Homo sapiens: one gene and its partners. The protein of the gene in region 3 purifies or fractionates together with the protein of the main gene of each other region. This does not show direct contact. Each region holds a gene or a part of one and is shown on either strand. Other genes may lie near its edges.

What was found.
Region 1: the proteins of FBXL4 (region 3) and ATG9B purify together in Homo sapiens (affinity purification with mass spectrometry; 2 studies listed by BioGRID and IntAct, with this or other methods). This does not show direct contact.
Region 2: the proteins of FBXL4 (region 3) and CRAT purify together in Homo sapiens (affinity purification with mass spectrometry; 2 studies listed by BioGRID and IntAct, with this or other methods). This does not show direct contact.

Annotation. Positions count from the first base shown.
Region 1 is NC_000007.14:151,022,264-151,026,012, forward strand, and holds the start of ATG9B (autophagy-related protein 9B), read right to left. Parts: upstream 2,232-3,749; 5' UTR 2,161-2,231; coding exon 1,611-2,160; intron 1,468-1,610; coding exon 1,424-1,467; intron 1,247-1,423; coding exon 1,182-1,246; intron 944-1,181; coding exon 782-943; intron 1-781. UniProt on the Homo sapiens protein: Phospholipid scramblase involved in autophagy by mediating autophagosomal membrane expansion. Cycles between the preautophagosomal structure/phagophore assembly site (PAS) and the cytoplasmic vesicle pool and supplies membrane for the growing autophagosome.
Region 2 is NC_000009.12:129,097,526-129,100,924, forward strand, and holds part of CRAT (carnitine O-acetyltransferase), read right to left. Parts: intron 3,165-3,399; coding exon 2,986-3,164; intron 2,442-2,985; coding exon 2,341-2,441; intron 1,126-2,340; coding exon 1,006-1,125; intron 847-1,005; coding exon 724-846; intron 624-723; coding exon 488-623; intron 1-487. UniProt on the Homo sapiens protein: Catalyzes the reversible transfer of acyl groups from carnitine to coenzyme A (CoA) and regulates the acyl-CoA/CoA ratio. Also plays a crucial role in the transport of fatty acids for beta-oxidation.
Region 3 is NC_000006.12:98,927,359-98,931,007, forward strand, and holds part of FBXL4 (F-box/LRR-repeat protein 4), read right to left. Parts: intron 465-3,649; 5' UTR 347-464; intron 1-346. UniProt on the Homo sapiens protein: Substrate-recognition component of the mitochondria-localized SCF-FBXL4 ubiquitin E3 ligase complex that plays a role in the restriction of mitophagy by controlling the degradation of BNIP3 and NIX mitophagy receptors.

The DNA of each region.
Region 1 (3,749 bases), on a different chromosome or scaffold from region 3:
CTTAGCTAGGACTGCAGGTACGCACCACCAAGCCCAGCTAATTTTTATTTTTTATAGAGATGTGGTCTCACTTTGTTGCTCAGGCTGATCTCAAACTTCTGGCTTCAAGCAATCCTCCTGCCTCAGCCTCCCAAAGTGCTGGGATTACAGGTGTGAACCACTATGCCCGGCCTAATTTTAATTTTTTATAAGGTAAAATGTGGATAGATACGACTCCCATAAACAAAAGCTTTTCAGGATTCTCAACCAATTTTAAGTGTATTAAGATACACTTAATGCACTGTAATTAAGATACACTTAAAAGGCCGGGCACAGTGGCTCACACCTGTAATCCCAGCACTTTGGGAGGCCAAAGTGGGTGGATCACCTGAGGCCAGGAGTTCCAGACCAGCCTGGCCAACATGGTGAAACCCTGTCTCTACTAAAAATACACGTGGTGGTGCACGCCTATAATCCCAGCTACTGGGGAGGCTGAGGCAGGAGAATTGCTTGAACCTGGGAGGTGGAGGTTGCAGTGAGCCAAGACCTCACCATTGCACTCCAGCCTGAGCAACAAGAGTGAAACTCTGTCTTAAAAAAAAAAAAAGATATACTTAATACACTTTAAGTACAACTTAATACACTTAAGTACAACTTAAAGTATATTAAGTGTATTTTTGGTCCTAAGACCAAAAGCTTTGAGAACTGCTGATCTAGATGACGGGACAAAGTGGGGCTCCCGTCTACTCCTCTACCCACTGCCCATGCTTCACCCCCAGGGCCCCACCAGGTTGTCACTAACCTCTCAGCACACTGGGCTGAGGGTAGGATGGCATCTGACAGGGTCACTTTGCTGTGGAACGGCCCAGGTCTGGTATGGTTACTTGGTTGGTTGGCAAAGAGAACATTGTAATCCACGCATCGAAGGAGGAAGGTTGTGAAGGTGACAATGAAAATAAATTGTCTGCCGGGAGGAAGGGGGGGTGCCGGGATGCTGCAGTGATCAGGGACAGCCAGGTGGGCTCCTGCCCCAGCCCCCAGAGCAGCCCATGGTTATCCTCCCTGACCCTGCCCCTGCTGAGCCCTTGGGCTGCTCGGGAAAGCATGGGATGGAAGCAGCTGGCACAATTAAGGAAGCAAAATGACAGAAGGAAGCCATGGGCCCAGGGGACCGAGTTCCGGGCCCGGGCTAAGCGTCTCACCCCAGCTGGAAGACATCCTCCAGCAAGATGCAGGCAAAGCCATTCCGCTGGTGGTAGCTGTAGATGTGGCTGCGTGTCAAGGAACAAGCCTGAGGCACGGGGGGCCTCTCCTGAGGACACCTCCCCTCAGCCCCAACAAGTCTCCCACCCATGACGCCCTCACGGAGTCTCCCTGCCAAGAACAGTGCCAGCTCCAAGAGGACCTTCCCATGCCACCTCTGCAGGCCTAGCGCAAAGGATATCTTGGTGAAGAAACTGTCCAGGTTCTGGATGTGATGCCAGGAGCCTGGGCACAGAGGGGAGAGTGTCAGCCCCTGGCATGTGATCAATTCTCCACGTTCTCAACCCGCTGCCAGAGGCCCAGCCTGGGATAAGTACTGGAGCTCCCAGGCACCACTAACCCTCTCCCACCCACACCCACACACATACCTCGGAGCCCTTCAGGGACATGAAGCAGGGGTTGCTGCTCCTCCCCGTGGATGGGTGAGTCTTGGGACCCCTCAGGGTCACAGTCCTCCAGCCGCTCATAATCCTGTTCAGGGATCAAAGGGCCTACCCGCAGCCCAGGAGAGTCCTGGGGGCACTGCTGTGAGGGAGTGGGGGTTGCCGGGGCCAGGGGTGGGGTGGAGTGGGATCCCCAGGAGGGAGATGCAGAGGCAGGTGTCATTGCAGGTTGAGCCTGTGTTGGGGGGGTGGCTGGGATAGGGAGAGCACTGTGGCAAGACTGAGAAGCCCCTGTCCCCTGTAGCACTGAGCAAGGGGGCCCTGCGGTGGGAGGGGAAAATGAGGAGGGGGAGCTTCTTGTATGAGGGGCAGGGGACAGAGAGAAGATGGAGATCCTCCCTCCCCCAGGTCCCCGGCATGAAGGAGGAGGAGGAGGTGGCAGTGGCATGGGGAGGAGGGGCACCGATCCGGGCCCCAGATCTCCCCACCGCCCCAGCCGCCTTCTTCTCCCCCCCCAGCCCATTCGGCTCACCATCAGGCCACGGCTTCTCCAGAAAGGTTGGAAGGATGGGAGCTGTTGTTGCTTCCACAAAGGTCTGTGACACTGAGCTGGGACTTCAACAGGAACAATGACAACAACATTACTAGGTGACTCAGCCTAGGCAGGCCTCAGGCGTCCCAGCTCTCAGTCACCTGTCTGATCACTCACACCCCTTCCAGGGCAACCTGAGGCCAAATCCCTCAGGGCCTGAGAGGGGCATCAGTTTAAGAGGAGGGGCCAAAGAGCACATTGAGATGAGAAGATTCCTATTATCTCCATCTTCAGACCTTGAATGAATGAAAGATAAAAAGAACAGCAGCCAAAATGACAAAAGCAAAAAGCAAAATCGTGTTAGAGCCAGGTGTGGTGATGTGTGCTTGTGTTCCTAGCTACTCAAGAGACTGAGGTGGGAGGATGGCTTGGTGCAGGTTACACTGGAACAGTATAGGTTACAGTGAGCTAGATCCTGCCCCCTGCCACCCCCCCCAAAAACATCCTATTAAAGGATTGTAGCAGGGCGCAGTACCTCACACTTGTAATCAATCTCAGCACTTTGGGAAGCCGAGGAAAGAGGATTGCTTGAGGCCAGGAGTTCAAGACCAGCCTGGGGAACAGAATGAGAAGACTCCATCTCTACAACAAATCTTAGGACCAAGATGTTAACTATTTCATTTCTTAAGAGTGTACCTCCCCCACTTCCCTCCACACACACACTACAGTGATCAACAGAGAAATGTTTTGTGACCAAAACAGAAAAGAAGAAGTAAAGGGGCCAGGCATGTTGGCTTACACCCGTAATCCCAGGACTTTGGGAGGCCCGGGCGAGAGGATCACTTGAGGCCAGGAGTTCGAGACCAGCCTGAGCAACTTAGGGAAACACCATCTCTACAAAATCTAAAAAACAAACAAAATAATTTTTTTTCTTTTTGAGGCAGTCTCACTCTGTCACCCAGACTGGAGTATAGTGGCACAATCTCGGCTCACTGCAACCTCCGCCTCCCAAGTTCAAGTGATTCTTCTGCTTCAGCCTCCTGAGTAGCTGAGACTACAGGTGTGTGCCACCACACCCAGCTAATTTTTTGTATTTTTAGTAGAGATGGGGTTTCACCATGTTGGCCAGGCTGGTCTTGAACTCCTGACCTCGTGATCCACCCGCCTTGGCCTCCCAAAGTGCTGGCATTACAGGCGTGAGCCACTGCGCCTGGTCAAAAATAAATTTTTTAAAAAGAATAAGAAAAGGTTGCATGTTTTATTGGTCTGAGGTGCTAAGGAAGAGAAGAGGGGAGGCTGACTTTGCAGCCAAGTTGGGGAAAACTAAGAAGAGGAGGTGAAGAAAGGAAAGGCAGCTATCTTGGATTTGAGAGTTGGTTTGGAGAACTTAGAGTAGAAAATTGGGGTTCTCTGAAAGTTCCATTCCGTTTGCATCCTTATCATTTTCAACTGTGACATTCTCTCAAGTCCGGATCCCACTTCTGGGACCCCCTGAAAAGCATCAGGGCTGAATCAGAAGGGAGGACAGCTGTGAGTCTGGGACTTGGAAGGATAATTTGGATACCCAGGGAGGAGCTGAACTGAGTTCCTTG
Region 2 (3,399 bases), on a different chromosome or scaffold from region 3:
TGGTGAAATCCCGTTTCTACTAAAAATACAAAAATTAGCCGGGCATGGTGGCAGGCACCTGTAGTCCCAGCTACTTGGGAGGCTGAGGCAGGAGGATTGCTTGAACCCGGGAGGTGGAGGTTGCAGTGAGTCGAGATCACACCACTGCACTCCAGCCTGGGCAACAGAGTGAGACTCTTTCTAAAAAAAAACAAGAAAAAAAAAGAGCGAGTATTGCAACTACCAACTCCTTGGTCCTCAGCCAGGGCCTGACATAGGGCAGTTGCTTACTGCCAATGAATAAATGAATGAACAAATGAATGACTCCCTTTTCCTCTTTGGTCCCCAGGAAGCTCAGAGCTAGATTCACGGCTCCAGCTTCTGTTAGATTCCCCGTGCCCACCATGGGGCTGGAATCCTGTAGGTGCTCAATTATTGTGTGTTGACTGAGTGAGCAGGAGGGAGGGGCTCAGGCCCAGCTCACCCACCCTCGCCCCAGACCTCTCACCGTGACGCTGGAGTCATCCATGGCCTTGACAAAGGTGAGTGAGTCCATGGAAGCCGAGCGGATGGTGTCGGTGCGGCCCAGGTGAAACATGCGCAGGGAGGCACTTTCATAGGTGGCACATGCCTGTCCGTAGATCCTGGTGGGAAATGGGGCTAAGCACGCCCCTTGGAGGCGGGCACCCCCTCCCCTGCCCCCAGGTCTCCTCCCTCCTCCATGGGTGGGCCACAGAGGCGCACCTGTAGTAGGCCAGCTGCAAAGCCATCTGGATGAAGGCATCTGGGCTTAGCTTCTCCGACTTGGGGAAGTCTTTTCCAAAATGGTGGAACACCATCACGGTGATATCCAGGTCCTGGATCATGCTGGGGGTGTGGGAAGAGCAGGTGAGGAGCAGGCCCCGGCAGCCCCTGCCAACCCCACGGAGGGTCTGGGTGTCATGACAGAGCTGGCACAGGAGCCTCTCAAGCTCAAGGGCCTGGCCTCACCCATCCAGCACAGGGATGGCGGGGGCAGGCACTTACATGCTGAGGTTCTGCTTGGCCTTCTCGATGTCGCTCTTGATCTCGGGGGTGATGTTGAACCGCAGCTTCTTGGGCATGGGCAGGGGCACCAGGGGAGACCGCACAAGCTCGGGTTTCTTCCTGCACAGTAAACGGGGCCTCAGGCTCATGCTGGTGCCTCTAGAGCCTGGGTCCATTCTGGGACCAGGGTGGGGAGGATGGGTACCTGAAGCTGGAGGGGGCCAGCCCAGGGAGGTGTGAGTTTGTTCTGAAAACCACCCTCACTTCAGCTTTTTTTTCTTTTTTCTTTTTTTTTTTTTTTTAGATGGAGTCTTGCTCTGTTGCCCAGGCTGGAGTGCAGTGATGTGATCTCAGCTCACTGCAACCTTGGCCTCCCTGGTTCAAGCGATTCTCCTGCCTCAGCCTCCTGAGTAGCTGGGATTACAGATGCCCGCCACCTTGGCTAATTTTTTTCTTTTTCTTTTGAGACAGAGTCTTGCTCTGTCACCCAGGCTGGAGCAATGGAACGATCTCGGCTCACTGCAACCTCCACCTCCTGGGTTCAAGTGATTCTTGTGCCTTAGCCTCTTGAGTAGCTGGGATTACAGGCACCCACCACCACGCGTGGCTAACTTTTTTTTTTTTTTTTTTGAAACAGAGTCTCATTCTGTCACCCAGGCTAGAGTGCAATGGTGTGATCTCAGCTCACTGCAACCTCTGCCTCCCGGGTTCAAGCGATTCTCCTGCCTCAGCCTCCCAAGTAGCTGGGATTACAGGCACCCGCCATCATGCCTGGCTAATTTTTGTAGAGACAGGGTTTCACCATGTTGGCCAGGCTGGTCTTGAACTCCTGACCTCAGGTGATCCGCCTCCCAAAGTGCTGGGATTATAGGCATGAGCCACTGCACCTGGCCTAATTTTTTTTTTTTTTTTTTGAGACAGAGTCTTGCTCTGTCACCCAGGCTGGAGTGCAGTGGCACAGTCTCCGCTCAACGCAACCTCTGCCTCCTGGGTTCAAGCAATTCTCCTGCCTCAGCCTCCTGAGTAACTGGGATTATAGGCATGTGATACCACACCTGGGTAATTTTTTTTTTTTTTGTATTTTTAGTAGAGATGGCATTTCACCATGTTGGCCAGGCTGATCTCAAACTCCTGACCTCAATTGATCCTCCCACCTCAGCCTCCCAAAGTGTCAGGATTACAGGCGTGAGCCACCATATCTGGCTGGCTTCCTTGGAAAAAAACAGATTCCCAGGCACAAAGGAGAGTGATATTTCTCTATAAGCTGGTCTATCACCTGTGTGTCACCTGTCACTAGAAGCTGGGGAACTAGGCGAGAGATGTGACTGTACTCACGTGTACTCGATGACATAGTCCAGAAGGGTGACAATAGGGGGCCCCTCCGCTGCAGCATGCTCGTACACAAGCCCACAGGAGCCATCTTCTGCCACGATGAACTGTGGAAGGGAAGGGAGACCCCGGTCAGCCCCAGGGCCCTGGGGGGTGGCCCCTCACCCAACCACTCTTTGGTTGAGGCAAGGGCCTCTCTGAAGCCATCTCAAGGGGCTATGATGACTTATTACTGTTATTAACAATAGCTGACACTCACCAGGTGCCCTGGTGTGCTAAGCACATCCCACGCTCAGCGTGCCTGACTGAGTCCTTCAAACTACTCTACCGGTGAGGTTGACCATCACCCCATTTTACAGGTGTGGAGAGGGACTGTTGTGCCAGGATTGCACTGGTGACCCCGGATCCCAGGTTCTCTGTGAGGTGCTGAGGGGGTGTGCTGGGGGTGACAGCGGTTTCCAGGCCAGAGGCAGGACTGGTGATGACAGGCTGGCTGCCTGGTAATTACGGCAGCGTCCAGCCTGCTGGCTTCCTGCCTGCTTTACAAGCTAGGAGGCTGGGGACGCAGGGCCGGGGACGGGCAGGAAGTCCCGAGGCTGCAGAGGTCCTGTTCAGGTGTGTGTGAGTGGGCGAAGCCCTGCCGGGCCTCACCTGCAGCGTCTTGTCGAACCAGCGGTTGCCGCTGTTGAGCCTGCTGCCGCCCCCATGCAGCATCTGGCCTGCCACGTGGCTGCGGTACACGTCTTCTGAGACCCTGGGCATGGTTGCATCTAGGCACACGGTGAAGATGCTCTTCTGGATGGAGCGCACGGAATCCCGGTTCACCTTGTCTGCAGGTGGCATGGGGCGGGGAGACGCAAAATGGGGTCTCATGGTGTGGGAGAGATGGACCAGCCCCTCCGCAGCCTCCTGCCCTGGGCTCTTCTGACCCATTTGTACCTCTCTGGGATGAGGAGACCCCCCACCTCGCCGGCCCTCCAGGGCATTCACCAAGTGCAGGGTGTGGGTTCAGAGCTTCGAACTCAACAGGACCCTGCAGGCCCACAGCACTCCTCGAGGCAGGGC
Region 3 (3,649 bases):
TAAGTCTTTGAATCTGAAAATTAAAATTATTTAAATTATATGGTGAACCACTAAAATACTGCTGTAAATTCAAAATAATCTTAGACATTGCTGTAATTTTACATGTTAACAAAAATTCCCTACTGTTAATTATTACTCTCTTTCAAACATACAGAATTCAGATTTCACATTATGGGAATATAGTTCTTTGGTGCTGACAGTTAATCCAGATGAACTACATTAACTGCCTTACACATCACAGATCACAGATCAGTGTTTAATTTATAACTCCTAGCATTATTTGTTAGGGCAGTCCATGGCTGGCTGGCATCTGGTTTGTTGCCAGCTACTCTTAGAAATCACTCACCCCAGATAGAATGGTCACAGGATACACATGGGAAATGCAAAAGTTGGCATTCATCCAGGTACCCTGAACTTTGCATGCTGACTTCAGGTACAAATGCTGACATGTGACATTCTTTTACCTGTAAGAAAAGAGTTTTGGAAAATATTTTTATGTCCAAGTCACAAAGTCAAAATATCCAAAATTATAAATAGCCACTTATTCAACCCTTCAAATCAAACAGGCCACATTTTTCTATTTTGTACACAATTTTAAATAATGTATTTTTTAAATGTTATGATAGAATATAATAAAGATTTAATAATGAACGCTATCTATAAAGAGGTTGCAAACTCACAGCTTTTGTTTCAAACTATGTTTGTATACATATTTCACTGAGGCCAAACAGTGTTTTTTAAAAATTTGATCTAGTTTGTAACCTTTAACAATCAACAAGATCCCAAGAGGCATGAGCTCTCTCAGTGGCCACTCTCGTTCCCAGCCAGCTCCACTCATTTACAACATAGGCTGGGGCCCATCCTCATTGAGTAGGTAAACTTTTGTTGACAACAAGGAACTATAAAACAAACTTATTTTTGTACCTGTAAAGTCTTGAGTTTAACTTCTAAGAAGGGAGATGTACCAACTTTTCTTTTTTTTTTTTCGAGACAGGGTGTCTCTCTTGCCGCCCAGGCTGGAGTGCCCTGGCGCAATCTCGGCTCACTGTAACCTCTGCCTCCTGGTTTCAAGCGATTCTCATGCCTCATCCTCCTGAGTAGCTGGGACTACAGGCATACACCATCATGCCCAGCTAATTTTTTGTAGTTTTAGTAGAAACAGGGTTTCACCATGTTAGCAAGGCTGATCTCGAACTCCTGACCTCAGGTGATCTGCCTGCCTCGGCCTCCCAAAGTGCTGGGATTACAGGTGTAAGCCACCACGCCCTGCCCCAACTTTTCTTTAATAGAGCAATGCACTAGTCTTCCAAAACTTCAGCACTAAGATTATAAAACATTATTTGCACTAAATGTCCCTTCCACTGAAAAACCTCCAATGCCTTTTTCTTATCTGCAAGATATAATCTAAATTATTTGGTTTGGTATTTTAAGGCTCTCTTCAAGCTGGACCAATCTCTTCTTGTCTAACCCAGCAAACCCAATCAAGTTCTAACCACTCTTCGTATTTTACGTTAAGTCTCGCTTCCTCTATCATTTCTTTTCCAACCACTTTTTTCCACATCAGTAGCCTTACTTTCTGATACCTACTGGCACTGCATTTTTATGAGATATATACCTTAGTTCCACTAGGGTTTATATTAGGAATAAGTCTCTTGAAGGAGGGAATCTAGCCAAAGATCTTTATTTCTCAAAGTACACAGTACATAATAGGCACAAAATATTTGACATGTTGATAGGTGATGAGCAAATTAAAAATTATAAAAATCTAAAATAATTTTAAATTGTATAACAGCATCCTTTTGCCTCTCAAACCCAAACAGATCCAAACACAATGAAATATTTAAAAATATAAGCACTGAAACACTACTTAAATAACTGAACTTGAAAGAAGTGCAGAGAATCCACAGTAGTAAGAAACTAAGAAGAAAGTTAGCTGGGCATGGTGGCTCACGCCTGTAATCCCAGCACTTTGGGAGGCTGAGGCAGGTGGATCACCTGAGGTCAGGAGTTTGAAACCAGCTTGACCAACACAGAGAAACCCCGTCTCTACTAAAAATATAAAATTAGCCAGGCATGGTGGCACATGACTGTAATCCCAGCTACTCGGGAGAGTGAGGCAGGAGAATCGCTTGAATCCAAGAGGTGGAGATTGCAGTGAGCCAAGATCATGCCATTGCACTCCAGCCTGGGCAACAAGAGAAAAACTCCGTCTCAAAAAAAAAAAAAAAAGAAAGAAAGAAAGTCAATGAGCAGAAAAAAGAAAGTCAATGAACAGAGGTCAGGGGCTGAAGCTAACATGACTCATGGAACCAGTTACAGGCCATAATGGTTACAAGGGGACTCCCTAACACCCATTCAGAGACGTTATTTAAAGACACAGGTCACAGTTGGAAGGACCTTCATAAAGTCAAAACTCTGAAAGGATCACCCTATCCATGAAACCAGGACTATAAAAACTTAGCTTACTGGCCAGGAAACCCAAGTAGGCATGACATCAACTAAGGCAATGGGGGGAAAGTCACCAGAGGAAATCAGAACCATATGAGGCATGAACCATGCATAGAGTGTGGGCCTAAATTCACACAACCTTCATGGTTTAGAATCCCACCCTATCCTCATGCCAAAAACTGAAAAAAGAAAAGTAGTCCTGAACTGGTAAAACTTTAGGACCTGGTAAGAGCAAATGTGAAAACTCTTTGCAGGAATGCTTCCAAAACATACAACAGACTAAACCTTTACTAATGATGCATCACAGTAAAAAGTTACAGACCAGAATAGAAAATGAACCATGATGAGAGATAGTCAGTGGACTCACCAAATGGAGGGATTTGCAGCACAAGAACAAGAAATAACAGAATAACCAGAATAAGACTTTTTCCAAAGAAGGGCAACAAAGCATATATTAAAATAAATAGGCTGGGCATGATGGCTCACACCTGTAATCCCAGCACTTTGGGAGGCCCAGGTGGGAGAATCACTTGAGCCCGCCGGGGCGGAAGTTGCAGTGAGCCGAGATTGCACCACTGCACTCCAGCCTGGGTGACAGAGCCAGACCCTGTCTCAAACAAACAAATAAATAAATAAGGTGTTTCTGTAACACACACTTAATGGATGTGCTCATGAGTCAATGAACCAGATTCACCTCAGGACATATAATAGCAAGTACTGAAGTATGTCATGTTATAATTGGGGGAAAAATAACTACCTGTTATATTACTTCTTTATTCAAACATTTCACCTACCACAAGTATAAATTTGTCAAATTAAAAAATATATATATTTAAGGCTGAGGCTGGAGGATAACTTGAGCTCAGAAGTTCAAGGCTGAAGTGAGTCATGATCGTGTCACTGTACTCCAGCCTGGACCACAGAGCAAGACCCCGTCTCAAAAACAGACAGACAACTTTTTGCCATTCAAGTCTCAATCCTTAACAAAAAAAATTGAAATGGTACAAATCTTTCTTTTACCATATACACTTTATTTCAAAATAGGGCTGCAGATAAATTAAGAACCATTTTCCAAAGAAGTTGACTATTCTCTTTTCAAAAAGAAAAAGAATTAACAAGTTAAACTGCAAAAATAAAATTTAGGAAATAAAGAACAACCTATAACATGTATTCAAATCAATTGACAAATCAGCTAATTTAG